Homo sapiens: one gene and its partners. The protein of the gene in region 1 interacts with the protein of each later gene in a pairwise test. Each region holds a gene or a part of one and is shown on either strand. Other genes may lie near its edges. The genes, in order: LBX1, UBTFL1, MAB21L3 and WNK3.

The links.
Region 2: the proteins of LBX1 (region 1) and UBTFL1 interact in binary tests that used the Homo sapiens proteins (3 or more experiments, as listed by UniProt).
Region 3: the proteins of LBX1 (region 1) and MAB21L3 interact in binary tests that used the Homo sapiens proteins (3 or more experiments, as listed by UniProt).
Region 4: the proteins of LBX1 (region 1) and WNK3 interact in binary tests that used the Homo sapiens proteins (3 or more experiments, as listed by UniProt).

What each region holds. Positions count from the first base shown.
Region 1 is NC_000010.11:101,226,492-101,233,312, forward strand, and holds LBX1 (transcription factor LBX1), read right to left. Parts: upstream 2,973-6,821; 5' UTR 2,325-2,972; coding exon 2,000-2,324; intron 1,300-1,999; coding exon 779-1,299; 3' UTR 503-778; downstream 1-502. UniProt on the Homo sapiens protein: Transcription factor required for the development of GABAergic interneurons in the dorsal horn of the spinal cord and migration and further development of hypaxial muscle precursor cells for limb muscles, diaphragm and hypoglossal cord.
Region 2 is NC_000011.10:90,081,456-90,087,647, forward strand, and holds UBTFL1 (upstream-binding factor 1-like protein 1), read left to right. Parts: upstream 1-4,494; coding exon 4,495-5,676; downstream 5,677-6,192. UniProt on the Homo sapiens protein: Essential for proliferation of the inner cell mass and trophectodermal cells in peri-implantation development.
Region 3 is NC_000001.11:116,106,729-116,114,417, forward strand, and holds the start of MAB21L3 (protein mab-21-like 3), read left to right. Parts: upstream 1-4,670; 5' UTR 4,671-4,782; exon of another isoform or gene 4,783-4,900; 5' UTR 4,901-5,082; intron 5,083-5,678; 5' UTR 5,679-5,887; coding exon 5,888-5,935; intron 5,936-7,689.
Region 4 is NC_000023.11:54,355,033-54,362,325, forward strand, and holds the start of WNK3 (serine/threonine-protein kinase WNK3), read right to left. Parts: upstream 3,015-7,293; 5' UTR 2,654-3,014; intron 1-2,653.

The DNA of each region.
Region 1 (6,821 bases):
TGGTTGGTTGGATTTCCCCCTGCATTGTCCCTAAGAGCCGGACTCCAACAGTCAGTCCGAGGAAATGCGGGAGGGAGGGAGGAATCTTAAAAACAGCATTAGTGGGCATTAGGAGGCAGAAATGGCATCGAAAACAGACTTTTCTCTCAGAGGGTGGGGAGGAAAGATCGATTTTGAAACTTGCAAGTCAGGACCTGACTGCCCACCTCTTCCCCTCCCACATGAGGAAAAAAGGCCCGAGGAAATAGAAGTCAACTGCAATAAGGCCGAGGGAGGCGAGGAAGGAGCGGGCCGGTGCATTCGCCACATGCAGAGAAAAATCAAAACAGCCGGAGCTGCCACTCCCCTAGACCGCAGGGTTAGTGTTCCCCGCCCTGGTTTCTGTCTCGCCCTCAGCAAACCCGGCAGCCCGAGAGCTTTGAAAACATCGAAATCTCCGAGATTTAAAAAATAATAATAAAAGAAAGGAAAAATCAGGCTGCGGTGGGAAGAACCCGCTATATAGGTTTAAATATTTATATAGAAGCCATACAGAATTGCACGGCGAGGGCTTCCGGGGCGGCGGAGGCCGCTGGTGGCGGCCGGCCCGGCCGGCCAGCCTGGGTTTATTGCTTCGAGAGGGAAGAGGCGGCTGCCAGGAGCCGAGTCCGGGGCCGGGGACAGGGGAGGAGGCGGGAGTTGGCAGAGGAGGTCCCAGCTCCCCTCGGCGGTCCGGTCCGGGAGGCGTTGGGCTTTCGAGCGCTAGGAGCCCAGGGCGGCGGAAGACCCGGGGCGCCGCTCAATCGTCCACGTCGATCTCTTCGTCTTCCTCGTCCTCCGAGCAGTCCTGGCTGCTGGCCGGCTGGTCCGTGAGCGGAGAGGCAGGCGAGAGCTGCAGGGCGCCAGCGCCCGGGGCCTTCGGGGCGCCTGGGGGGAGGACCGGAGAGCCGGGCCTCGACTTGGCCCTGCCGCAGCCGCCGCCACCGCCGGCTGTGGCCTCCGAGTTCTGCTCGAGTTCGGCCAGCGCCACGATGTCCATCTGCCCGCTGGGGCCCAGTTTCTTGGCGGACTCTACGTCGGCCTTCATCTCCTCCAGGTCCCGCTTGAGCTTAGCGCGCCGATTCTGGAACCAGGTGATGACTTGCGCGTTGGTGAGGCCCAGCTGCTGCGCGATTTGGTCGCGATCGGCGGGGGACAGGTACTTCTGGTATAGAAAGCGCTTTTCCAATTCATAGATCTGGTGGTTGGTGAAGGCCGTGCGCGACTTTCGCCGCTTCTTAGGGGTCTGCCGCTGCCCAAAGATGGTCATACCGTCGCGGCCTGGGAGGAAAGGACAGTGTAGGCTCGCGTTGGGAGAGAGGAAGCCCACCCTGGCTCTCGCCCCCGTAACTCCGTAACCCACCCAGGCCTGTCCGGCCTGCAGTCTACCAATGTTCCCTTCTCAGATTTAATTCAGCCTCCAGGACCAGGGCAAGTCTTGGCTATGGCAAACCATCTCCTGTCTTTGGTCTCCCAGAAGTCCCTAGGAAAAATTGTTTTGGTCTCTGCCCCCTACCTAAGAGTTGGTTTGAAAGACCCAAAGTCTCTAAGGGTATGAGAAAGCCAGACAGAGACACCCTAATTGCGGTGTGAATGTTGGTTCTCCATCCCTTCCCAATCACTTCAACTCTACCCTACCCATAAGGTCCCCGGCAAAAGACTCTCGATTCCCCACGCCGAGTAGCCGGGCTAAGAGCGCCCAGGACACTGGGAACGCAAGGGAGCCCGGCAAAGCAAGCAGACTGCGGAAAGAGCTTGGCCACCCTTCTCCTGCCACCCCCCAGCTCTGGCCTACCCAGAGGTCCCTGGGAAATAAGGATTGGGTCCCGTCCCACATATCTTCACTCCCATAAGCAGCTGCTCAGGCTGGAAGGCCCTGGCGGCCGGAGAGGGCAGAGGCGAGCAGAGGCATAGGGGACGAAGCGCGCAGGGCACAGGGCGCGAGGCGCTGGGTGCAGGGGAACCCAGCAGCTGCGCCTACCTTCGGCTGCCTGCAGAACGCTGACCTCCAGCCCCTTAAACGTCTTGCTGGCGAGCTCCTCCAGCGCGCACAGCGGCGAGGTCTGCGAGAGCAGCGCGCGGCCCGCCAGGGGCAAGCCGCCCTGCGCGTGCTTGTCCGCGGCGGCCAGCAGGTGCGCCGCCCCGCACAGCGAGTAACTTCTCCGCACAGACGGCTTGTTGAGGATGTCCTCGATGCTGAACGGCGTCAGTGGCTTGTTGGAGTTGGCAGGCGGAGGCAGGTGGTCCAGCGGGCTGCGCCGCCGCTCCTCCCCCGGCGCCGCCTTGCCGTCCTCCTTGGAAGTCATCTCGGCCTTGTTCGGGGTCCCGGCCGGGGCGGCTCGGGCCGCGGGGACCCAGCCCGCGGGCAGCTCGGGCGCCGGACGGCGCGGGCAGGCAGCGGCGGGTGGAAAGGAGGCCGCACTGGGCAGGGCGCGGGCCGGGCGCGGGGCCGATTAGCGCGGCGGCTGAGGAGGGGAGAACAGCGCGGGGCCCCGGGAAGAGGGCGCTGACGCGGGCGCCGCTGCTGCTGGGGCTTCCAGCAATCCGGGGCCGGAGCCGGGGCGCGCTGCGCGGGGCTCCAGTTTCGCCAACCCCGGTGCTATTTAAAGGTGTCAGGTGGCTCGGCAGTGGCTCCTGGCCCCGGGTCCTGGCGGCCGCAGTTGGAAGAGCCGAGGCGAGGGCGCCGATCCCGGACTGCGAGGGAGGCGGAGAGACGGGGCAATTGACTATTGCTAACAAGTTAGCCTTGATCGCGGTGTAATCAATTATCTGCAGCGGCACTTCTTTCTCTTTCTCTCTCCTTTCTCCCTTTTTCCTCTCTTCTTTGCCTCTGTTCTCTCCTCCTGTTCTCGCTCTCCCTCCCTCCCTCTCTCTTCTCTCTTCTCTGCTCCCCCCTTCTCTCTCCTTCTCTCCCTCTCCCTCGCCCTCTCTTTCACTCTCTGTCTGTCCAATGCAGGCGGCTGTAAGTTGGGAAGCTCATTAATTAGCGGGCCGGGGGTAGGAGGAGCCGGCTGGAATTAGCCTGCCTAATGCGCCTGTCAGTCCGGGCGCTGCGCTGCGTTCGGCCCGAGCTGTTTGTAAATTACATTAGCTGCTCCTTTATTGCACCCGAACCTCGGGCGACTGAAAAGCCACCGCCCCCACCCCAAACTGCGAGCCGCGCTCCTGGCGCACCCGCCTCCCGCCGGCCTAGCTGCAATGACCGCACCGGCCCGAAGGTCTCGGTCTCTCCGACCCGGGATGTGGAGCCCGAAAGAGTGGTGGGAACCCCAGCCCGGGAGGGACGCGGCCGCCGCTCGGGCCAGGTAGGACCAGGAGCCCGGGTGGGCCCCGCTGCCACCCAGAGTGGACTTTGCGGAGCTGAGATCAAGAGCCCAGCGCCTCTACCTCTGACCCTCTTGCCCCTCACCCCACTGCCTGGGCGACGCGCCTGGGGAGAGGGAATCTGAAGCCCTCCTGCGCTGGCCCGCAGGAGGTCAGAGCCGGCTGCGCAGCCTTGGGTGGGCGACGCGGGAAGGGGGTGGAGGACCCCAGGGGTTGGGGGAGGGGGCTAGTCGGAGAGCTCAGCCTTCTCCACGCGGAGAGGCGGAGGAGGGAATTGTTGGCGGCTCTGGACGCCTCTCCCCGGCCTGATTCCGAAGCGGCCGCCCTACCTCCTCCGGCAATCTTGCTCACTTTCCTCCGGCAGCCGCTCCCCAGGCTGGCTGGGGCCACCAACGGCCTGATGATGGGCGTCTGAAGAGTAGCCAGGCCAGGTGCCGGGGCTAACGGGGCCGGCTCCGTGCCTCCCTGCTGCGCTCCGCCCGGGCCCCGGCCGGGGCCCCGCTGCCGGCCCCGCCTAGCCCAGCGCCCGGCTTGAGTGCATGGCCAGGCCGACTCCAGCTGTTCCGGATGCGGGGCGGGGGCCCGGCGGGAGCCAGGCCGCGGCTGGGGCTTTGCTCTCAGGAACTCGCAGGGAGGCCAGGCTTCCAGTTAGGCTGGGGCTAAAGACCTTAGGGCCCGGGATCTGTGAATATCGGGAGAACATGTTGTGTGCATTGTTACTTGAAGGTGTTTGTGTTTTTGAATGTGTGTTTGTGTGTGTTTCTCCATGCGTATATTTGTGTAAATGTGTGTGAACCTGTGGGTATATAGGTGTGTTTGAACTCAGCTATTTCTTTCATTTCCCTGAGGCATTCCAGCAGGGCTGTGCCCTCAGGCCTTCCTGTCTTGCTACCCCATTCTGTTTATGTGGGGCCACTGGCCTCCTTACTAATTTTCCATTTCTGCCCTTGGAGAAAGGAGGGGAGGACCTAGAGGGGGTTGGAGTCCAGGGAGAAGGGCTGTTCCCCTCCCACACACACACAGCCCTGGCCCTGGCTTTGTTTGTAAACTCCTGGGTGGGCGGTGAGGTTGGGCATTGGGCAGCACCGCTTGGACCAGAAAAGGGCCCAGAGAGGCCAAAGTGAGGATTTGTGGCCCAGGCCAAGGGTTGGAATGGGAAGATTAGGATTTCTTGCCCCCTCTCCCCTCATATCTAACCCCAGAGAGGGAGTGAGCTAAGCTGGGCTCCGGGGCGGGAAGCAGGTTCTTTCTCTGGATGCCTCAGCGTAGGGGGCCTCTGCACAGCAGAGATAGGTTTCATGATCTCACCTTCAGTTGTTTGTTTGGAATTGTGGCTGGCAGCTCTCTGGGGTAAAAAGGACAGTGTAGGGAGAAAGGGTTCTTGTTTGGTGCCCCAGTTCTGTGAATGTTGGGAAGAACCCCTACCCTCTAACTCATCTTTGTCCTGCATTTTCGGGGTGGCAGTAAGCGAGTGGGGGGAAGACAAATGCTCAGAGGCAGGATTGGTGAGAATGGGAATCACAGTTCCCTCAGAGCTGCAGACCCACTCCAGGGCAGACCTGTCTCTACTCTTCTGCGCTGCCCTGGGAGCCACGAGGTGCTGCTGGGCCTAGCAACAGAGGAGTCAGAGCCTAGAGACCAGCAGAGGCGGACCGGTGGGAGAGGGCGTTGGGGAGCTGAATCTGGGTGGCTTGGAAGCTCTGGGGCCAAGAGGGGTCAGTCCTCTCACTTCCTGCCCTCAGGATCCCATTTCAGCCTTTTCCTGCCATAACCCCAACCCCCTGACCCAGAGCCTCAGGCAAGTGAGGCTAGCAGGGAGGCAGGGAGGCCCCTCTAGATCCAGGAACAAGGACCCTTGGATCCCAATAGAGAGAAAGAGAGAGAGAGAGAGAGAGAGAGTTCCTCCCATACTTCCACACCCTTCCTGTCCTCTTCAGTCTTTGCATCGCATCTGGTACTAGCCCACAGGATAGGACTTTAAGGACAAGCCAATCCCCTGCTGTTGCCCATCTCCCAGATCCTCAAGACCAGCGGAGTTCAGGGTTACTGGGAAGCTGACAGGAAGGGGAACATGAACTGGGGAGCAGAGGGGTCCCTCTGCTTGGCGTGTTCTTAATGTCTTATCCTGCTGGCTAGTACTGAGATCTTTAGTCTTCAGCCACACCATGTCAAAAGGAACACGACGTCTCACAATCATCTGCTGAGTTACCTCCACCACCAACACCAAACCTCTTCTTCCCTGGCTGACCTGTACCTGCTGTCCAATCCTATGGCTTGGCTCTTTTGACCTAATTGGTTGGCCTCTTGGTTAAACACACTTGGGCACACCATATGGCTGGGGTGTGGAGTGCAGTGTGAGGTGCAGGGATGTGGGGAAGTCTGTGGTATCACCCTGTGTTTTGTTGTTTTGATTCACCCAGATCCCCTTATCCAGGCCACCTTTGGAAACCAGCCCACCTGCTACACCAACCTTTTCCCAACACCGTGGTCCCACCCCTACCTTCGCTGCTGAAAAACCGCATTGTGTGGGGGTCTGGAATCTTCTGGACTCCTGGGACCCCAATCCGCTTGCCTCTTGTACCCCTCTTGCAGAGCAATGAGGTATGTTTTGGGTTTGTGTACTGACCCCTACCTGCCTCCTCTGCCAGACCTGAGGGCAGGAGCCTTCCTCTGGGTATTCCAGTTCATCTCGGACCTTCGAAGTCCTAGGAGACACCGGGCTCCCGCTGAATATCGGTTGAATGACTTTCCATAGAGCAAATGGGGTATACATGATTGTGCAATGTGGAGGGGAATGGTTTGGGCCCCTCAGAGGAGTTTAGAGATTAGGAGGATTCCAGAAATGAGTAACACAGGGTCAGTGGGGGTAGAGCCAGCCCTGACATTCTGGGCTCCAATCTTTCTGCCCAATCCCCTACTGAGCCCCCATGCTGGGGCAAGGCAGACACTCTGGGGGTCTCCCCACCCCCAGTCAGCTGGGCCAGCATCTTCTCACCTGGAGCTGAAAGCAGCTGATTCCCAGAGTCTGCTCCACAGAGGGAATACCTGTCTTCAGAGCATAATCTATATGCTACCATGATCCTCAATTCCTGTTTGCTGCTTAAACAGCCAGGGTCCAGGTTTATTCTTTCTCAGTGGATAGGGAAGGGATCATTCTGCCAAAAATCTGCTTTCCCTCAGTTTAGGGAATATTCCAGACAAAGAAGAGGGAAACAGCATTTCATGAATTGCCACAATAAGGGGACCCTGCAGACCCAAACAAAACAGGTTAAACCTTAACACAGGAGAAGAATTCGCTTAAACCCCCAAAGACTCCATTGGATTCACTCTGGATTGTTTTGGTACCCCCATTCATTTCCAGATTATTTGTATAAGCACCAGCATTGACTCTCAGGCCAGAGTTCCTTTAGAGAAAAGGGTCTGACACTGCTTGAAACAAGTTAACTTGGCCAGCAGTGCGGATCATTTTACTGTTGTTG
Region 2 (6,192 bases), on another chromosome or scaffold:
TCTGGAGGGAAAGTCCTAGATATTATACAGTTTTATCTATAGCATGATATCTAGAATTTAATTGGAAACCTTTATTGTAGAATATGAAAAGTTCCATGTTGTCTTTAACTTCAGGTTGAATGCAGCCTTGGTCGTCTGCAAAGTTTTTAAGTGCTCAAAGGCACTTTTTTATTTTCCTAATATTCCACTGAAGTTTTTATTTCTGTCATGGTATTTTTATTTTACAAATCTATTTTGTTGTTTGAATCCTCTTTTTAAAGCCTCTTGTTATTTTTTGATATTTTTATTATATTTAATATAGTTTGATAATAAATATCATACATATGACTTTGTGAAGCTACTATATAAATGTTTATTTTATTTTATTTTATTTTTATTTTCCTTTTTTGAGATGCAGTCTCACTCTGTCACCAGGCTGGAATGCAGTGGCGTGATCTCAGCTCACTGCAACCTCTGCCTCCCAGGTTCAAGCGATTCTCCTGCCTCAGCCTCCCGAGTAGCTGGGACTACAGGGGTGCACCACCATGCCCAGCTAATTTTTGTATTTTTAGTAGAGATGGGGTTTCACCATGTCAGCCAGGATGGTCTTGATCTTTTGACCTCGTGATCTGCCTGCCTCAGCCTCCAAAGTGCTGGGATTACAGGCGTGAGGCTCTGTGCCTCGCCAAATATTTATCTTTTATGTTACAAAAATTTAAAAAACTAACAATTCATACAGCTTCATAAAGTCACAGGAGTTCATACATTTTGTTTAAGATCAAAACTTACTCTCAAATGGTTCAGGAATAAAATGTCTTAAACTTCTAAGTATTTCGTAAGTGATTGTGATAAAAAATGAAAAATAAAAATTAGATGGATTATGACACAGAAAAGGGAAAATCACACAACATTGACAAGGTCAATTTTTTTGAGACAGAGAGTCTCACTCTGTTGCCTAGTCTGAAGTGCAGTGATACAATCAAGGCTCACTGAAGTCTTGACCTCCTGTGCTCAAGCCATCCTCTCACCTCAGCCTCCAGAGTAGTTGGGACTACAGGCACTACAAGTGTGGGCCTGGCTAAATTTTTGTTTTTGTAGACATGGGGTCTCTCCATGCTGCCCAGGCTGGTCTGGAACTCCTGAACTCAAGCAATCTTCCTGCATCAGCCTCCAAAAATGTTCAAATTACAGGCATGAGCCACTGTGCCTGGCCCTATATAAATTCTTAGTTTTCCCAGTTTCTTTCCTTCTTTCTTTCTTTCTTTCTTTCTTTCTTTCTTTCTTTCTGTCTGTCTGTCTGTCTGTCTTTCTTCCTTCCTTCCTTCCTTTCTTCCTTCCTTCCTTTCTTTCTTTCTTTCTCTTTCATTCTTTTTCTTTCTTTCTTTCTTTTTCTTTCTTTCTGTCTTTCTTTCTTGTTTTTGTTTTTTGTTTTTTTTTTTGACAGGAGTCTCTCACTTTGTTGCCCAGGCTTGTCTCAAACTCCTGAGTTCAAACGACCCTCCTTTTGGATCTTAGGCTCCAAAAGTGCTGGGATTACAGGCATGAGTCACCATGCCTGGTCACAGTTTCGTCATATATGTAATGGAACAGCAAGCATAAAATGAGCTCACAGAGTTTTAAGGAGAAAAATAAGATATTAATAATAAATGTAAAACATTTGCATATTAGGTTCCTGGGGCTGCTGTAATAAACTATCACAGATAAAACAATAATTTGCTCTCTCACATTTCTGAATGCCTAACATTTAAAATCAACATGTTGATAGAGTGGTTCCCTTTGGAAATTCTGAGGGGAAATCCACCTCCTGCCTCTCTGCTAGCTTCTGGTGGGTGATGAGAATCCTTGGCTTTCATTGGCTTGTGGCAGCATAGCTCTAGTGAGCTCTGTCTCTGCCTCTGTCTCCACATGGCTGTCTATGTGTCTCAGATTTTCCTTTTATTTTTTCTCTAAGGATACCAGTCATTGGACTTAGGTCCCACCCTAAACCCAGACTAATCTTGTTGGGAGATTACCAAGGTAGTTACATCTGCAAAGATCCTATTTTCAAAAGTCCATATTCACAGGTTTCAGTGGTTAGGACTTAGACATATATTTCGGGGGGCCACTCTTTAACTGGCAATTTGAAAAAAATGTCTGGCTCAGAAAACAGCCCCATAACAACAAAAACACAACTGTATTTTTATTTCCACTGCTTTACGCACATCACCCTAACTTTTACAATTGGGAAGATGGTACTTCTTTTTTCCTAAATTCAGATTCTGAATATTTCACACCTCTTTTCTAATGTCAATTCTATGTTTTTTCCCTTTTTTCTGAGTTAGAATACATCTTGTATTTATTTATTTTTATTATTTATAATCACCACAATATATTTGGAAGTCTGACATTTTTTATTTCTGAACCATTTGAGACTATGTTCTGATCTTAAACACAAAGTATGGAATCCATTATTTTTTCTTTTTTTTAACTTTGATTTGTGAAAGTTACTTTTTTCTTAATTACTCTTTTTATTTGTTACATTACTAAGTTTGTTTTATTTTAATTTTCATAGGACATTGATGAAATGACTTTTTTATGATTTTTGAGATGAAAAATTTAATAACTTTAAATTTTACATTCTTTTAAGTTTTTCACAGTTTATTTTAATGCTTTTTTTTTGTAAATTTTAATTATAGTTATTTATATCTTCATTTATTATGGAACAACTTCCCAAAAGTCTTTTTCACATAATAAATTTAATATAATATATAAGCTATTATTTATTTTCTCTTCTGTCTCAAATATGGACTTTAATTATATTCCAATATTTCAGAACATTTTAATCTATGTTTTGAGACATTTGTGACTTACGTGATATTATGACTATTATTCTTTACACTTCTAGTGAATTTTTAATGTCATTCAAAGGCTACATCCTTCTATACTCTACTGAGAATTAAAAATAGTTCTCAAAAATATTATTCTCAGATATTCAGAACTCATTCTCAGAATTTCAACTTCCACCAGTATCTTAACTCTGTTCTCTTTCCCTTCTAATGCATATTTTCCCCCTGAAGGCCCACTGTTACACTCCTTATTCACCCTCCATTTAAGATTCGGTTTTATTTAATGTTGTATGTATTCGTACACAATTTTATTTATGTGAGGCTTAGTCTTAGAATAGAAGATCATCCTAAAAAGACTAGTGAAAGAGTTATGAGAATTTCAAGAGTGAATCCAGAAATCACGTGCCAGAAGAATTACTTCAGGCAAGACAGAATTGCTAAAAAAAAAAAAAAAAAAAGGAGTAGTCATCAGATCTGCCACATTTTCAAGTTTTGTAATGGAAAATGGCAGGTATTCTGGAGGGAGTTTCTGGAGGAAGCCAAACTTTCACTGAGGCTTAAATATGATGAACAATTAACCAAATAAAGTTGAAATGTTTTATAATTGTCATTAAATCCTTGATATTTAAAAGGAGAAGCAGTATGGTTCTTAGAAAGCATTCATTCCCGGCCCAGGAGTGGTGGCTCACGCCTGTAATCCTAGCGCTCTGGGAAGCCGAGGCAGGCGGATCACCTGAGGTTGGGAATTCGAGACCAGCCTGGCCAACATGGTGAAACCCCATCTCTACTAAAAAATACAGAAAAATTAGCCAGTCGTGGTGGCACATGCCTGTAATCTCAGCTGCTTGGGAGGCTGAGGCAGGAGAATCACTTGAAGCTGAAAAACAGAGGTTGCAGTGAGCCCAGATTGCCCCACTGCACTCTAACCCGGGCGACAAGAGTGAAACTCCGTCTCAATTAAAAAAAAAAAAAAGAAATAAAAGAAAGCAAGAAAGCATTAATTCCCATGCACTGGTCCTGGAGAATCTATAATTCAGTCTTTTATCACAGGTTCACATTCCCTTATAAAAAGGTAACAGTTGGATGCATGTCTGGAGGAGCTCTTGGGCTTGTCCGATTGTATCTTTAACTTCTCATCTGCACCTTTAGCTATGGCTATTTGGGCTGTGCTTAGAAAATGGCCATACTCAGGGCACTGTAGAATGAACAGTCCTTCCTGTTTAGGCATTTCTCCTTCCACTTTAACTTCTGACTCTGTCTTCAGGGCATTTCTGTTATATTAAGCTTCTTAAGTGATGAGTGGTCTGGTGTTTGTGTTATGCAACTCAATTTAAGATAGGTTCATGTGAGATCTGGCAGAAAGCAGGCTGGGGTGGGGTGTGGAGATACTGAATATTGTGCATGTAGCATATGAAAGGCAAACATAAATTTAATTCAGAAACAGGCAATGTTTATTTATAGTTAAGGGTCAAATGAATTATACAAGGGACATATGACAAATAGGATGTAATTTGCTTCATTAATCCAAATGAAGGAGAGTAACTTTCTTTCTCCTCAGAAATACAGAATCACACATACTGCAATACTTCCAGAAATAAATCATCCACTGAGTCTTAAAAGTAAAGAACTCTGTGTTCTTGCTCTGGTGTCTACATAACCGGGATCTTATAAGTAAGCCAAAGACATCTAAATGGCTTTGCCTAGAAGCCAAGGCCATTGGTCCAACAAAGACATCTTGAGGTTACTGGAATGCATGGAGAATAATCGCCCATCTGATGACAACAGCACGTTTAGCTCAACTCAGTCACACATGGACTGGGGAAAAGTAGCTTTTAAAAACTTTTCTGGTGAAATGTGCAGACTCAAATGGTTAGAGATTTCTTGCAACTTGAGAAAATTCGGCACTTTGAAAGAATTAGTCCTGGAAGCTAAGAAATGTGTTAAAAAGATGAACAAAAGCCAAAAATACAGGAACGGTCCAGACTTTCCAAAGAGGCCCCTTACTGCTTACAATCGCTTCTTCAAGGAGAGTTGGCCCCAGTACTCCCAAATGTACCCTGGGATGAGAAGCCAGGAACTGACCAAAATCCTGTCAAAGAAATACAGGGAACTCCCAGAGCAGATGAAACAGAAATATATTCAGGATTTCCGGAAGGAAAAGCAAGAATTTGAGGAAAAACTTGCTCGATTCAGGGAAGAACACCCTGATTTAGTCCAGAAGGCCAAGAAATCTAGTGTCTCCAAGAGGACTCAAAACAAAGTGCAAAAGAAGTTTCAGAAAAATATTGAAGAAGTGAGGTCTCTTCCAAAAACGGATCGATTTTTCAAGAAGGTAAAATTTCATGGAGAGCCTCAGAAACCCCCCATGAATGGATACCACAAGTTTCACCAAGATTCCTGGTCAAGTAAAGAGATGCAACATTTGTCAGTGAGGGAGCGCATGGTAGAGATTGGCAGACGCTGGCAGCGCATCCCGCAGAGCCAGAAGGATCATTTTAAGAGCCAGGCTGAGGAGCTGCAGAAGCAATACAAGGTGAAATTGGATCTCTGGCTCAAGACTTTGTCACCTGAAAATTATGCTGCATACAAAGAATCGACCTATGCTAAGGGTAAGAATATGGCCATGACAGGAGGCCCGGACCCCAGGTTGAAACAAGCAGATCCACAGTCCTCATCAGCAAAGGGTCTGCAAGAAGGGTTTGGGGAGGGGCAAGGGCTCCAGGCTGCAGGAACAGATTCATCACAGACTATTTGGGTAAACTGTCATGTCTCCATGGAACCAGAAGAGAACAGGAAGAAAGATAGAGAAAAGGAAGAAAGCAGTAACTCTTCAGACTGCAGCAGTGGAGAAGAAATAGAAGTTGATGTCTGAGGGCAGTGGCTCTAGTGCAGCTTCCTTGTTTTTTTTTTTTTGTTTGTTTGTTTTCTTTTCTTCCTTCCTCCCGCAAAGTAGGACAGGTTGGGAAGAAAGAAGCAACTTGGTGCAGCACTCTCCTACATCAAGATTATGAACCTGGGAGGAACTCTTTGGGAAGAATAAATATAAGTTTGAGCCAATACTGGCCTTATCCTTAAAAAAACAAACAAACAAATATCATCCCTTTCCCGAGGAACTTTATGCAATTAAGGCTTCTGAAATGAAGAGATGATTACGTTGTGGGGTACACACTGTATTAGACTGAATATTTCTGAAGCAAGAAGCTTTGCTTTACTCATTTTTGTCCTGCCAAAGGTGGTAGGGGGATACCCATAAGCCTGGGACCCAAACTTCCCTGTGGAAATGTTTTTCAGGACTCCTGCACTAAATCTAAGGTCGGGGATATTTGATGAAAGGTGGGGTAGGTGTCTTAAGAGAATTGTCCCACTCTTGATATCTCTCTCCTCCCCT
Region 3 (7,689 bases), on another chromosome or scaffold:
GATCTGCCTGCCTTGGCCTCCCGAAGTGCCGGGATTACAGGCATGAACCACTGTACTCGGCTTTGTCTTCTTTCTTAAATGCCTTTCTCACTGTCAGTGTTTTTCTGGTGGTGTCAACTGAAAAATATGCCAGCCTCACACAGCTCAGGGCAGAGGAAAAGGAGTTTCACATAGACTTAAGGAAAAGTTTCAGATAAAAATACAACTCTTTTTTTTTTTTAAACCAGGAAGGAAAATGTGAAAATGGAAACACCTTTTACTATTTGATTTGAAAATAAAGTGTCATCCAAGCCATAGCAGAAGCTTCATTATTTTGACAACTGGTCTCTGTTAAAAATAAGTTTCCAGGTTGCCCTCCAGCTTGCACCATTTGAATGAGGAAGATCCAGAACGACATTCTAGTGCGTAAAAATATAGATAGGTGGACATGCAGAGAGATGGAAACAGATATAGTCTCCCCCCAGCCCAAACCGACAAACCGAGATTTTTTTTCTTTTTTTTTTTTTAGACAGGGTGTCGCTCTGTCACCCAGGCTGGAGTGCAGTGGCACAATCTCAGCTCACTGCAACCTCCACCTCCCGGGTTCAAGCGATTCTCCTGCCTCAGCCTCCTGAGTAGCTGGGATTACAGGCACCCACCACCATGCCCAGCTAATTTTTGTATTTTTATTAGAAATGGGGTTTCATCATGTTGGTCAGGCTGGCCTCAAACTCCTGACCTCGTGATCAACCCACCTTGGCCTCCCAAAGTGCTGGGATTAAGGCATGAGCCACTGCACCCGGCCCAAACCAGGATCTTCTATGATGTACGATTTTTTAACTAGAACAGGTCATCTTTGCTGCATAGAGAGCTGGCGTTGACAGCACTGGTTATTTCTCATTCTTTCTTGTTGACCACAGGCTCTACAGTGGTAGAGTTGTTGGTGTTAAATAAACTTTTATTTTCTTCCTTCAGTCTAATATTGGGGAACTAGTCCTTTCTATATGTATTGTGATAATAATTGCAGCTAAGAAATAATGTACTTTTAATTGAAATGGCCAGATGGAGCCATGACTTTTTCAAAGACATGGGTTTTTGGCTTCTAAGTTCTACACGGCATGTTCTAATTATTGGGCAGTTTTTCAACATTCCTGACACCTTTCGGCTGTGAATAGTGGCTTCCTTCAAGTACACAACATCTTATCCTGTTGTTTTGCACTTTCTGAGTTGAAATCAGCCTTTCCAAGGAAAATTTCCTTATTCCTTTTCTACTTTTGTTGTGTTCCTAAATGAACTAATGGGAGCTTACTCATTATTTAACTTTACTTTTCTCACTTTATCTTATGCCTGCAGATGGGAGATAGAATGGGATTACATTGTAGAATAAGAAAAGGGGCCACCGTCATTTAGTCATTAATTCATGCATGCATTCATTCATTTATTAAGCAGCTACTATATGTCAAATACTGTTTCCAACAAGGTAAATCTTTTCCTTTAAGGAGCTTTTGGTACCACAGGAGCTAGATACAAGCAAAGTAACAAAATGCAGTATGATAAGAGCTAAAGTAGGAGTTTAGCACTGGGTGGCCTAGAAGCATCGTGTAGAGTCCCCCACCCAGTCTTGAGAATCAGAGAAGGCCCTGGAGCAGGTAGCAGCTAAGACAAATCTTGGAGAACAAATAGAAGCCCAGTGAAGGGGTGGAAGGTAAGGGGAGAGTCCAAGCAGTGAGCATTGTCGGTGCAAGGGTCCAGAGAAGATGGTGAGGGAGGGGGTCTTGCAGGGAACTGTAACTATTTTAGTATTGCAGGAGTGCAGAGTGCAGGGGTGAATCTTGTGTGTAGTACAGTGTTGCTTAAAAAAGATAAATTAAATAAACAAATAACCCAAACAAGTTAGAATATCCCAGATAGGATATATACTCTTGCATCCACCGCAGACCCCTATCGCTTTCCATTGTTCTACTCTATCCTGATTTATTTTATTAACCACCTGGCCTATGTAGGCATTTGTGTTTGGGATTCCCTACCTCTGAACCCAGACCAAAGATCAAATTCAAACTATCTCAGTTACCATGTCAGGTGTGAAAGGAAAGAAGACCAGCTTTTTGATGGAACTGTGAAGACCAACCCAGTGAACAATCCTACCCACCAGGTAAGACCAGGAGAATTACTCACATACATTAAAAGAAGGATCTTTCATATGGAACCAACCTAATTGTCCATCGATCAATGAGTGGATGAAGAAAATGTGGTACATATACACCATGGAATACTACTCAGCCATAAAAATAATAAAATTATGTCTTTTGCAGCAATTTAGATGGAGCTGGAGGCCACTATTTTAAGTGAAGTTACTCAGGAATGGAAAAACCAAATACCTTATCTTCTCACTTATAGCTGGGAGCTAAGCTATGGGTATGCAAAGGCATACAAAGTGGTATAATGGACTTTGGAGACTCAGAAGGGGGACGTGGGAGGGGACTAAGGAATAAAAAACTACATATTGGGTACAATGTACACTATGTGGGTGATGAATGCACCAAAATCTCAGACTTTAGTACTATACAATTCATCCACATAACCAGAAACCACTTGTACGTAAAAAGCTATTGAAATAAAAATTTAAAAACAAAAAACCAAACAAGCCTTAAAAAATAGATCTTTTTCCTCAGGGAGTGAAATGGAGTATAAACACAAATATTTATTGAGGTCTTATCATGTGCCAAGTACTATGCTAAATTTTTTTTTATATCAGGCCTTTCTATAAAAGAAGATAGCAATTTAAGCAGTCACAGATGCATGTATATAATTAAATTTATAATTTGTAAGGTGATTTTACACATCTTAAAATATATTTTATTTACTAGAATGTCACTTTATAATGTGACATTCTAATAAATAATGTCATTTTGCATAATGTTTAATGCAAACAAATAAGCATTCAGTAATGTTTATTGAGGGCCAGTTGTGCGTTAGGTACTGAGGCTTCTCTGGAGATACAGAACAGACTGGCCCCTGCCTCGGGTTGTTCACTACTGTGGACTTCAGCACATCACAGACGATTATCTCTGCCTGGTATTCTGCATTGTCAGATTCAGTCTGAGTCATCTTGGGATTACAGGAAATCTTTTAAAAAGTCAGAGTTTGTTCCTGGCTAATATGGTGAAATCCCGTCTCTACTGAAAATACAAAAAAATTGGCAAGGCGTGGTGGCGGGCGCCTGTAGTCCTAGCTACTGGCGAGGCTGAGGCAGGAGAATGGCATGAACCTGGGAGGCGGAGCTTGCAGTGAGCCGAGATTGCGCCACTGCACTCCAGCCTGGGCGACAGAGCGAGACTCCGTCTCAAAAAAAAAAAAAAAGTCAGAGTTTGTAATCCTGCAAACTTTAACAAATTTGTATATTTAAGGTTGATTTTGATCAAGCTAACCTTCCTCCTTCTTGGAATTAAAATCTCAGACACTAAGTAAATCAGTAACAAACACTTCTGCTGGTAAACCAGGGCTAGCATTATCTCCCCGGGACTTCTCAGATTGGCAGCGTAGGGTTTTGCATGCCTTGTTAACCTGACTTGTAATAAGTTCTTAGTCTTCACAATGGAAACTGAGCCAAAGCAGGTTTACATTTCCGTACTTGCATTTGGTGTGAGTCATGAGAAAGGAGAATATTTATTTTCTGAGGAAGGAAGAGAACCTGAGCTAACTTTGAATTTCCTCAGTGGCCTAGCATACAAGTGCCTTAGGCTTACTGTAATTCAATCCTTTTGCGAATCCTATATCCAATTACCCAGATATCTACATCTAAAAAAAGCTTGTCTTCATCAAACTGTCAGACAGGAGCTGTCAGAGAGTCTATTTGTGGGACTGCCCTGTATTTCAGAGCATTTGCCCATAAGGAGCTAAATCATGGAGTAGGGAATTGGGTTGTGCCCCCACAACACACCTATTCCCTGGATATGACATCCTGGTAAAATCGGACTGTGTAGCTTCCCTGAGCACATGATTATTTCTTCGTTTCCTGATTGCTCAGTTGGCCCTGTTGGTTGCTTTCCCTGCTCACAGCCGGCAATTGTCGCTGGATCGTAGGGCAAGAGAATATTCCAGTTATAACATTTTGATCAGCTGCGGTACTGGAGCAATCAAGATAGGGCAGCCACAGGTGCAAAAATAATGAAAGTTTGTGCATCTGATGACAGGTGTCTGGGGTAACCCTCGAACATTAGGAAAGACCCCACCGGAGGAAAGGGACTCACAAGTTAATGATTACAGTGAAAGCAGAAGTAACAACAAAAATGAGCACATGAGAGAAACAGTGGGACTTTCGTAATGTTGAAAATGAGGTGGAGAGAGAATTCTAAATTGCAAGTTCAGAGAAAGAGGCTCTTGCTGTCTGTGAAAAACAAATAGTTTGGCACTACTATGATAAGAAAAGCCCAGGGAATAAGATTCTGAAAAATTTGGGAGCACTTGATATCAAAAGAAGGAGATTTAGAATTACATATAGAAACAAATGGAAAATCAAGGCTGTTTTGAGGGGTGCTATCAGAGGGTCATTGGAGAGGATGTAGCTTTACAATATTTATATCAGGCTGTGCATTGGCAGGAGTTCTGTAGAAGTTGGACTGAAAGCTGGAGGTAATGACGTGGGTGGGGCACAGAGCAGCTAGGGAGCTCTGATGCGGCTTTTGCTTGGGGCAGAGTATGGGAAGATATGCAAACGCTGAGGCCCCAAATAGTGCAGTGGCCTTTGTGGGCAGCACTTACAGGTGGGCTTGGAAACACTTGCCTTTGGAACATTGTTTAAAAGTAAGTAGTGCTCCCAGAAGGGCTGTAATTTCTTTAGATTATCTGATAGCAGACTCCGTGATGTTTACCAGCTTCAAGGAGATCAGACCATTGTGAAATTTTTTTTTTTTTTCTGTAGTAAAACTAGCCCCAGCCAGCCCAACTGGGAATTTACTGCCTGAGCTGTTTTCCAACATAAGTTTTGCTGGCAAAACCAGACGTGAGTGTTCCCTCGACTCTAAAGGGACCTGTTTACACTGACTTTATTTTTACTGCCAGCTTTCAAGTTGGAAGAGGGAAATTACGTTTAAAGGTCAGCAGGTGAGCAGAAGGATTCCTGACCAGCCATTCCTGTGGGTGTGTGCCCGTGTGCACTCTGTGTACGTGTGTGTGCCTGTGTATATGTGTGTGCCTGTGTGTACGTGTGTGCCTGTGTATATGTGTGTGCCTGTGTGTACGTGTGTGCATGCTTTTCTAAATGCCAACCGTTGTGCTCTGCGCTGGCTGACAAGACCTGATCACTTGTTTGCGGGCATAATGATGGGTGTCAGGCTGGTTGTTGGGCAGTTTCCTATTTGTTTATTGTAAAGAAGGTAAATCAATCCGTGGGATTTTCTGGCTTGGAGAGCAAGGGGTGTTTACTGTCAACAGGATAAGGACCAGGAGATATAAGATACTGAGTTCCACGGTGCATCTAGTGTTGGGACAGGAGCATAAAAGGTGGGGAGAAGCCAACTACAGGGTATTTCTGACTTGGATGGAACTTTTAAGTACTTGGGTGGGAAATACAATTTGGAAAATTGCTCTCTGGTGAAAGCACCAGTCAATGTAGCTAACTAAGGTATGATTAGGTTGGACTCAAATTCAATTTTATCAACTCTTCTTTTTAAATTCTTTTTTTTTTAATTTCCCAAAAGATGACAGATGGATTTTCACAATTTGGAAATAAAAACATGAGTGAAGGGTTCGGAAGGCAAGTCTCTGGTCCATTACACACTTCCAGAAAAACTTAGTACCCAGAGACTCACATTACTGGGAGTGCTATCTACTCACAAGTGTTGCACTCCATTGAGAAAAAAAAAAAAACCAGGAAGTTGCTGTTCTACTGAGGACTGACCAAGAAGCCATGAAATACCTTACTGTGGGAGACTTAGAAGATTGCCTACTGAATAAGGTAAGGACAGACCCGGTCTCTCCCATGAACCCCCTCCCCATTCACACTACTTCCAAACAAACCTTCGTCCAGAAAGGATCTCAGGCTCTTTCTAAAGACACATAAAATGCTCCTCAGAAAACAGACTGTCACCTATAACAATGTTTGGGGGCTTAACATATATCAGCCTTACTTCTCTTTGAGGGTCTGGTACCCAGAGACATGCTGAGTATAGAATATAGAATGGAGAGTAGGAATCTGGGGAATGAGGGGGAACTCCAGCTCTGCCACTGACACTCGTGTGGTTGTGAGTCACTTAACCTGCCTGAGCCTTGGCCTTCTTCTCTGTAAAATGGGAATAATAATAGGAGCTTCATGGGGTAATGGAAAAAGAGCTAATGAAATTAAAACAAAGCTTTTTAAAGACTGTGAAAGTACTAGGTTTTTAAATATTATTATATTTTTAGTACACATCAGTTAAGAACTTAATTTCTTCTAGATGGTCTAGATGGTCATGTCAAATGTTAGAACTTGAAGGAAACTTAAATATTACCTAGTTTAAGCCTTTTCATTTACGGATGAAGCTACTAAGGCATGATGTTAATGTTAAAACCAAAATATTTAAATTGACTAAGAAGTAGGCACTGGTCTGCAGTTTTCATGCCTTTACAAGTTCGAAAGAGAAGATCATTATCATAGTGATAAGTAAAATGTATTTCTTAGGCAAAACCATTAAGAGAGATAAATAAGGAAAACCTGGGATGATAAAAACTAGAGTAAACAAAGTGATTTCCCATTAATTCCTCCCTTTGAGGGCTCTAAGTGGAAGAGATATTGGCTGGCATTTTTTTCGTGGGTCCTGTATTTTTTGTAAGAAAAAACTCCAAACTTTTTAGTGTGGTGTTCAAGTAACTTCAACTGCTCTATCTTTCTACCCTCCGCTCCCCCTGCATTTCCAATAGCAGAAATCCTAAACAGTGTTCGACACGTTGAATCCAGTGTGTGCTCATGTTTTGTTTGGCCTGTAGATTATTTCTAATGTTTTTCACAAACATTTCAAAATAGATTTTGCATAGAAATCCAGATTTCTGTCTTTCCAGGGGAAAAAAATCAGAATATTTCGCAACTACAGGTCCCAGTTTCTTGCCTGGAAACTGTGTGCTGGGGCTGAGTGTTTGCTAGCCAGAGCACGTGCTGGCCAATTCTCAGGAGGCTGATCCTGTGTCTGACACTTGCTCCTGGTCCCCGCTGCCTCTCTCACGTGTGTCCCCTACTCCATTCCTGTAGGTGGTTGAGTCTCCCATTTCTGCCCAACAAGAACTGGGCCCTGAGCAGGCCAAGGGCCCCAGCTCCTCCTCGCCACTTTTCTGGCTCATATTCATCCTTCAAACTCAGAGTCCACTTTCTCAAGAAAGAGTCCCTGACACCCCAGCACAAAATGATTTTGCCCACATATTCACTCCCGTTATAATTAGTATTACTGGCACCATTTATTTGATCATGAGTTTGTATATTAACTCCTGACACTTTTCTATTATCATCTTGGTTGGCAACTTACATGTCATATCATTTCATTCTTTATAAGTTTCTGGAGGGAAGAACAGTGTCTTGCATACCTTTCTTTCCTTTGACATTCAGAGTATCTTGCACATATATGATCAGAAATATCTTTAGAGTTCGTTAAAGGCAAGAGTGGTGTGGAAGGCGACAGGTCAAGGTGCATACAGGATCTCATTTAACCTAATCAACAACTATGTGATGTACATATTGCCTCC
Region 4 (7,293 bases), on another chromosome or scaffold:
AAGATCACGCCACTGCACTCCAGCCTGGGTGACAGAGCGAGACTCCCTCTAAAAAATAATAATAATAATATCCATTATTTTCTTTACTTCTGCCTACTCTGGTTCTTTGCAGCCACTGGCTTTATCATTTACCGGCTCAGCAATGAACAATATAGTAAAAACAAAACTCTATGGAAGAAAGTTAAGTCAACACTACAGAAATCTAACTCCTAAAACTATAATTATTTAAGCAAATGTAAACTTGTGATATGAAGATCAACAATGGTCTAGAAGTCAGAACTCCGGGGTTCACCACTTACTAGGGCATGTCTTGTTTTTCTGGGCTTCATTTCTTTTTCAGATAGAAGGAGAAAAATACCTTTCCTACCTGCCTCCCAACCAAAGTACCGTAATAAAATTATGTACAAGGTATGATAGAACTCTAAAGAGGGGGACCTAACCTAGCTTGGTGGAGGATGCTGGGAAAAGGAAGAAAGGGAAACCAGGAAAGGCTTTCAGGAATAGCTGGTGACAAATGTTAAGTTTTAAAAGAATGAGTTCAAATTCTAGGGGAGGGGGAGAGAGAGCATTCCAGGTAGAGGGGGACATCAGAAGCAAAGGCAGAGAGAGAAACACCATAAATCTGTTTATGTTATTCCCCTTCTTAAACAATCAAGAGTTCCTAATTCACCCCAGCCTCAACCTAAGATTCCAGCCTTATCTCATTCCATTCTCCAAATATACCATGCTTACACTTTCAAGACCCAAAATGTGAATGTCCTTCATCTAGAAACATCTAGTTCAAAACTGGGAGGCCGCCTTGCCTGGTTGAGTTAGTGCAACATTTCCAGGCTCTTACAGTGCCTTTATACTTCTACTGTACTATTTAATACATTAAGTATTCATCTCAATCTGAGAGACTATGAACAGAATATGACCTTTTGTATTCAAACTGCGGGTAGCCTAAACAAGGATTACACTCTTTCCAATATCAAAGCAGAATAAAAGAAAAACAGCATGGGAATGTTCTCAAGTTTGCAACATTTCCAAGAAAACTAAATATATATCAGTAAAATGTGTAAAAAATAATCACAAAAGATTAAAATCCATAACCGTTAATCTTGACCCAGAACAGAATGAGACCAGGACAAGACATCCTTATCAGAAGATAAGTATTCAGAGAACAAAATGTTCACGTAATCTGTTGTAATTTAAACTCACACCAAAAAGCGAGTGCCAATTTTCAAAGATAAATTCGTAATGACCAAAAAAAATGTACAATTATTTTAGTTCAAAGTCAGCTTTAGTGGATTTTTTAAGACAGAGTCTCGCTCTGTCGCCCAGGCTAGAGTGCAGTGGCACAATCTTGGCTAGCTGCAACCTCTGCCTCCCAGGTTCAAGAGATTCTTCTGCCTCAGCCTCCCAAGTAGCTGGGATTACAGGCACGCTCCACCACGCCCGGCTAAGCTTTAGTGCATTTTTGCTATCCTTTAATGCAAGGTATCTTTCCCTTGAGCTGTCGAGTTTAAACAATTTTTAAACTCATCAATCCAAAGGATAGAGACCGTCTTAAAAGACACCCGCTGCTCTGTCACATACTAAGACCTCTTCAAAAGTTCTCTTGGTATTACAACTTACTATAGATGAAAAACAGATAACGGTATCTCCAAAAATTGGATACAATCACTACTATGCAGAAGATTTTCACAACTCAAAAGCTGTTTTATTCATATAATTGTCTCAATCAACAGTAACTCTTAAGAAAAAATAGCCATACTATTCGCATCTGTTTTGAGGGTTCAGTCTCATTTTAACAGTCTCTCAACCCCCAAGATACGGAGATACTCACGTGCAGGATTTCCACCCCCACCCCATTATATAAATGTTTCACCACTTTTAACTAGTCAAACAAAACCTCTTTCAGTACAGTGAAGCCACCTCACCACTTTCATCCTCACCTATCATACCATCTCCTCCCCATCCCCAACCTGTCAGTCACACAACACACACCACCCCTTCCCAAATAACACCTCAGAATCTCCTTGAGCCTAACACATTTACACAAGCCAGCAATATTTCTCACCCCATCCTGTCCCTCACACATCAGCTGAACCTCTGAAATAAATCTACTCTTTCCTTCATCCTATTCCCATCAATACAACTGAACTTCCCACACCCGAAGCGATCTTCCCTTTCAGTAGCTTCAATCTCACTTAAGTGATCACTCAGTCCTTTGTCAACCGTCTCCTGTCCCCCTCCTGTATCCTCCTCACCTTCCCCGTCCCCTGGTCTTCCATCAGCTCCCAAAGTTGTCACCCCTCAACAACAACCAAAAAAAAAATCAAAAACAAAAAAGAAAACAAAACAAAAAACGCACCTCAGCCTCAAACCTGCCCTTCCCCACTTTCCCCCTGTTCATTTTCCTCTCCGCCTATTCAGCAGTTTCGACAGCCCCTTAGCCCGGAGCCCGGCCTCGTCCGGTACCGACTGGTGAAGGCACTCACCCTGCTTCGGTCAAGCCGCCCCCCGCTAGGGCGCTTACTCCTAACAGACTCTTGGCCGCCGCTGCCTCCCTCCATTCATCCCTGGCCCATTCATCTCTCAGCCCGATCCCAGACACGCCCCCCGGCCTCCTCCCTCTCTCCTAGCGCCCCGGCCGGCCCGGGACCCTCACCAGATTAGAGGCTCTCGCAAAGGAAGACTCTCTTACTCTTTTCGCTTCTCCCTCGCCCTCTCTCGAGCCTCCTCTCGCCCCACGACGAGCCACACCGTAGAATAGACACATACACACACACCGCCTCCTCCTCGATCGCCTCCTCCGATGCTTCTTACTCCTCTCCTCGATGTCTCGAGCTCCGCTCCGCGTCGTGTGCGCTTGCGCGCGCGAGCGTCTCCCCGCGAGCCCACCGGGCCAGCTACGGCCGGTAGGTAAAGAGCGGGCGGAGAGAGGGGAGCGGGGTACGAGCCCAAGCTCGCGCTCGGCCCGGAGCTGAGCAGACGCACGCGTACTCCAGCCAGGGAATTCGGACGGGTAGGAGAGAGGGGCGGAGGGGGGGCGGGGAAGGGAGGGGAGAACAGAAGAGGGGGAGGGGCGGAGAAAGCCAACGGAGCAGCCCCAACTCGGAACCGCCCCTATCGCAGCGAGGTGCCGAGTGGCCAGCCAACTAGAGTGCGCGCACGCCTCCCGCCCCCCTCGGCGCCGCGGGAGAGAGGGATGCGCGTCGAGGAGAAAGGCTTCTCCCCATTCCAAAGAGAAAATCTCTTAGAGGAAGCACGCGCGACATCTCCTGTGTGTTCCGAAGCGCTCTCGCTCTCTCTCAGCTGCTCTACCCTCTCCCCTCAGAGAAGAAGAAGAAGAAGAAAAGTCCAAGCACACACTACTTCCTAGCCCCCCACTGCCCACCCTTGGGTCTCCGCGAGCCTCTGAATGCTGTAGCGCCGCTGTTAGGAGGTGGTACCCGCCGGCACCTTTTCGCCCGCCACCCCTGACTCCCTTTTTCCAACTCCCGGGATTTCTCGCGAGACCCATACCTGCCGGCTTTGGGATTAGAAGTCGAAGCACCGATTTACAAATACTGGCCTCCCAGTTACGTTGCGGGGGCAACAGCCACGGCATGTCTCCCCCGCCCCCCAGGACCGCAGTGCGCGCGCGCGGGGGCTGGGAAACGACCAAAGCAGGGATGGGAAAGGGAAGCTATGAAACTGATTTTTGACGGCATGTAACCGCTAGGCCTGGGCACGTGCCCTGCGCCTCGCAGACGGGTGCGATGTACCCTGGGAATTGTAGTTTTTCTTCCCACCTATGGTCCGACTCCCACCCTCAGTTTTACTTAGGCCTCTGACCGGGAGGGGGATTTCCGACGCCATTTTGCCGGGAACAATGGCCCTCGGCCCTGATGGTGGCAGGTGGGGGAGGGAGCAATGGTTTTAAGGGTTCGGTGAACCTCCTCGGCCCCTTGGTGCCATAGCAACCCCTTCAGAGACCTGGTCCCGCCCCCTCGCCGCCGCCAGGCTTCTAGAGCGCGCGCATGCGGAAAGGCTGCCTCCCACTGAGACTGGCTCTCTGTGTCTCCCACCGGCCACCTCCTTGAAAAACTCCCAGATCCTCTAGCTGGTAGTGAATGCTGCCTCCTTCGAGCTTTCGGTACATGTTAGCCTCGGCGCAGCGGCTTCAAACTGCTTCCTGTGCTATGCCAGAAGCAGTATAGAATTGTTTCCGTCATTCTCCCATGAATAATCCCGGCCCGACAGAGGAGGAAATTGAGGCTCAGGAGGGGAAATGGACATGAATTGCTCAACTTCATACTATTTGTGGAGTTAGAACTTGAACCCAGGTGTGCTCACTCCAGAGCCGAGGCATTTTTCAATCTCCCGGGAGTCATCTGGTGGCGCAGCTAAAGGGCAGGGCATTCTTTTCGAATGCCCCTCAAGCTAGGAGGCTGTGTGGGAAATATCTGACTAATGCTTTCAGCCCTCCAGCCTCGGCCCTATCACTGAGTTATCCCTTCTCCACTACCTATTTTTCTTTTCCTGCTGTAGGCCTCAGAAATCTCAGTCTTTTTCAGCTCTTTAAAACAGCACAATCAATACATTTAACTCAGGTTTCCAAAGTCCAAATAAAGTGTAATGGTTTATCTTTGACTTTGTAAGGGGGGGGTGAGTATAATGATGGGAGGCCTTGTAGCCCTATCTCTTGCCTCTGTCCCTTCCTTATTAATTTCCATATTGCCAGAATATGTAAGGAAACCGGACCATGCCCTTAATACATTCAAACTCCCATCTTTCCGTTTTGACAACGGAGGGAGATGCTGAGGAAACAATAGGGCTATGAGGTCCAGCCACTAGAATGGTGGAGATCTTCCTTCCTGGCCGATTTGAAAGAGCAAGGTGTGGTTTCTCCAAATAGCTTCACCATTCTACCTTAAGAGTCTCTGAAGTCTCAATTAGCTGAAAAATGGATGGGGTCTCCCACGCTCCTTTCCTCACTGTCCCTGAAGATAGTCCCTTTTCCCTGTTGATTGGTTGACTAGTGTAGGAAAAACAGAGGAAGAGTAGCTGAACAACCAGTAAGGGGCAATTTCAAAGTTTCAAAGGTTACCAGTTTATCCCAAGTCTTTGTAGGTCCTGACTCCCATGAGATGGCAACTAGAAACTTGTGGCCACCGTTTCTGTTTCTCAGTGTCACCCTATTCCCACCACTGCCACACACATCACCTTCATGAAAAGGCATCTAGCTCAGTTGTGACCTGCTCCTCTTCCCTTGTCTCTGAGCCTGATGATGTAGGTAATGAATAAAGAACAACACTTGGAAATGTTAGCCCTTCAATCTGCTTAGATGTTAATTCTTTTGAGCAGTACCTCTTTGATAGTTGAATACTTGTTAAAAAAAAAAAAAGCTATTGAGTAGAGTGACTTTTATGACCTTTAGAAATTTGAAAATCAAACAAGTCGGCTCCCCATCCAAATACAGGTCCTTCTCAATTTAGACCTTTTATTGACATATGTGCTCTTCTGTTTGGGACAATCTGGTCTGTAACTCAGCACAAATGCCACTGTAGGCAGAAAGGGGAGCGGGCAATTCTAGCTAATCACCAAGGTATGACAGGGAACATTCCCTTCCTACCCACTGGTTTCCACTGACTCTCAAGTGACATTTGCAATGTTCCTACTCATCAAACAGAAATTTTGATTTATATTAACTATTTGTAGTTTGGTTTTACATTGTTCCAGGAAATCATCCTTCCAATAATCTAATTCATTTTTTTCTAGAGGCTCCGGTGCCAATAAATTACAAAAAATTTAACTGGAATCATTTTTAAACCCCAAAATCCCACAGGAGTGGGGGTAGGAGGTTAGTTTCATGGCCCTACTATCTGTTGGTCTCTTTCCTACCACACAGGATGGTAACTCCTTCAGTCAACAAGATGGAGCTGAAATGAACCTCAAAGTTTGTAGTTAGCTGACCACTGCAACCATGGGTAGAGTTGTGACTGTTTCTGGAACTTAATTTCTGACCCGGTGCCCTCTTTTTAACCAGGTTATTGGGGCGGGGAGGTAAACAATGTCCATCATTCTTGATGTTCATTTCCCTTAACCCAAGTGATACCACAGTTTGGGGATCTTAGGTAATGTCCAGGCATGGGTGTAAGTGGGAGTGGAGTAAGGATATCTGCTTCTAGTTATTTAGATCCTGGCAGTTTGTGCTGAGCCCTCTGCCCACATGGGTCCTTTCCAGTGCTGTGGTCCTCTCCAATGTCTCTGCGACATGGGGCACAGAATTTTTCCCGAAGTCCCAATAGATATTGGGCCATCTACCTAGACATTCCACACAGCTCTTCCTCTCTTGAGTCTTCCCCATCAGCTAGGTGTTGCTCCTGGGAAGCTGAGGCTAATCAATGCTGCTTGAGCTCCCACAGAGATCTCTCTCTGCTCTTGTTGTCTCTTTCTCGCAAGGAGAGGGGAGTGAGGAAGAGAAGAATCATTTTTTAGGTTTGTGCAACTCTTTCTTCTAGTTTTCTGGCCCAGATACTTGGTCTCTGCCCCTACACCCTAATACCCCTTGCTTAAGGACTTATGTTTTGGAAACACAGAAACCAGAAAGAGTGGCAGAGTATTTGTTTTACTGCCTTGCCACCTCCCTCCCCTGAGGTACACCACAAAGCTATGTTATTTTGGGGGCAGAGACAGGTAGAGAAAAAGAAAAATACAGGAAAGAAAAAAAATATATTATATTCTCTAGATAATACTGAGCCACATTCTCCTTCTATTAAATCTTAGCATCCCAGCAAGGGAAAGTGTACTTCTCATCCAGGTGCCTCTGTTCAAGGCAGTAACTCCCAGGGCTTGGATGTCTGGGTGATCTTTTCTCCAGCCAAGTCTTTCCACTAGGGGAATTTCTCACCAGGATCATCTAAGGGTTATTAATGTCCTCCCAGAAGGTTCTCTTTCCTCCCAGCACAAGTTGAGTATTCCTTGAGTAAGGGCATACTCAGAAGTGAACAGCTATCTTTGGCTTAGCGACTGACTTAGAAACACTCCACGTTTCAGGCTGGATAATGCAATTTCTCCAGCCTTGCTATTGGTCTAGTTTCTTCTTCCTAGATGCAGTCTTTCCACATGTGCCCAGAGCATACGTCAGGGGGCAATTTATTTATTTATTTATTTATTTTTGAGACAGAGTCTTGCTCTGTCGCCCAGGCTGGAGTTCAGTGGTGCAATCTTGGCTCACTGCAACTTCCGCCTCCCGGGTTCAAGCGATTCTCCTGCCTCAGCCTCCAGAGTAGCTGGGATTACAGGTACGTGCCACCACCCCCG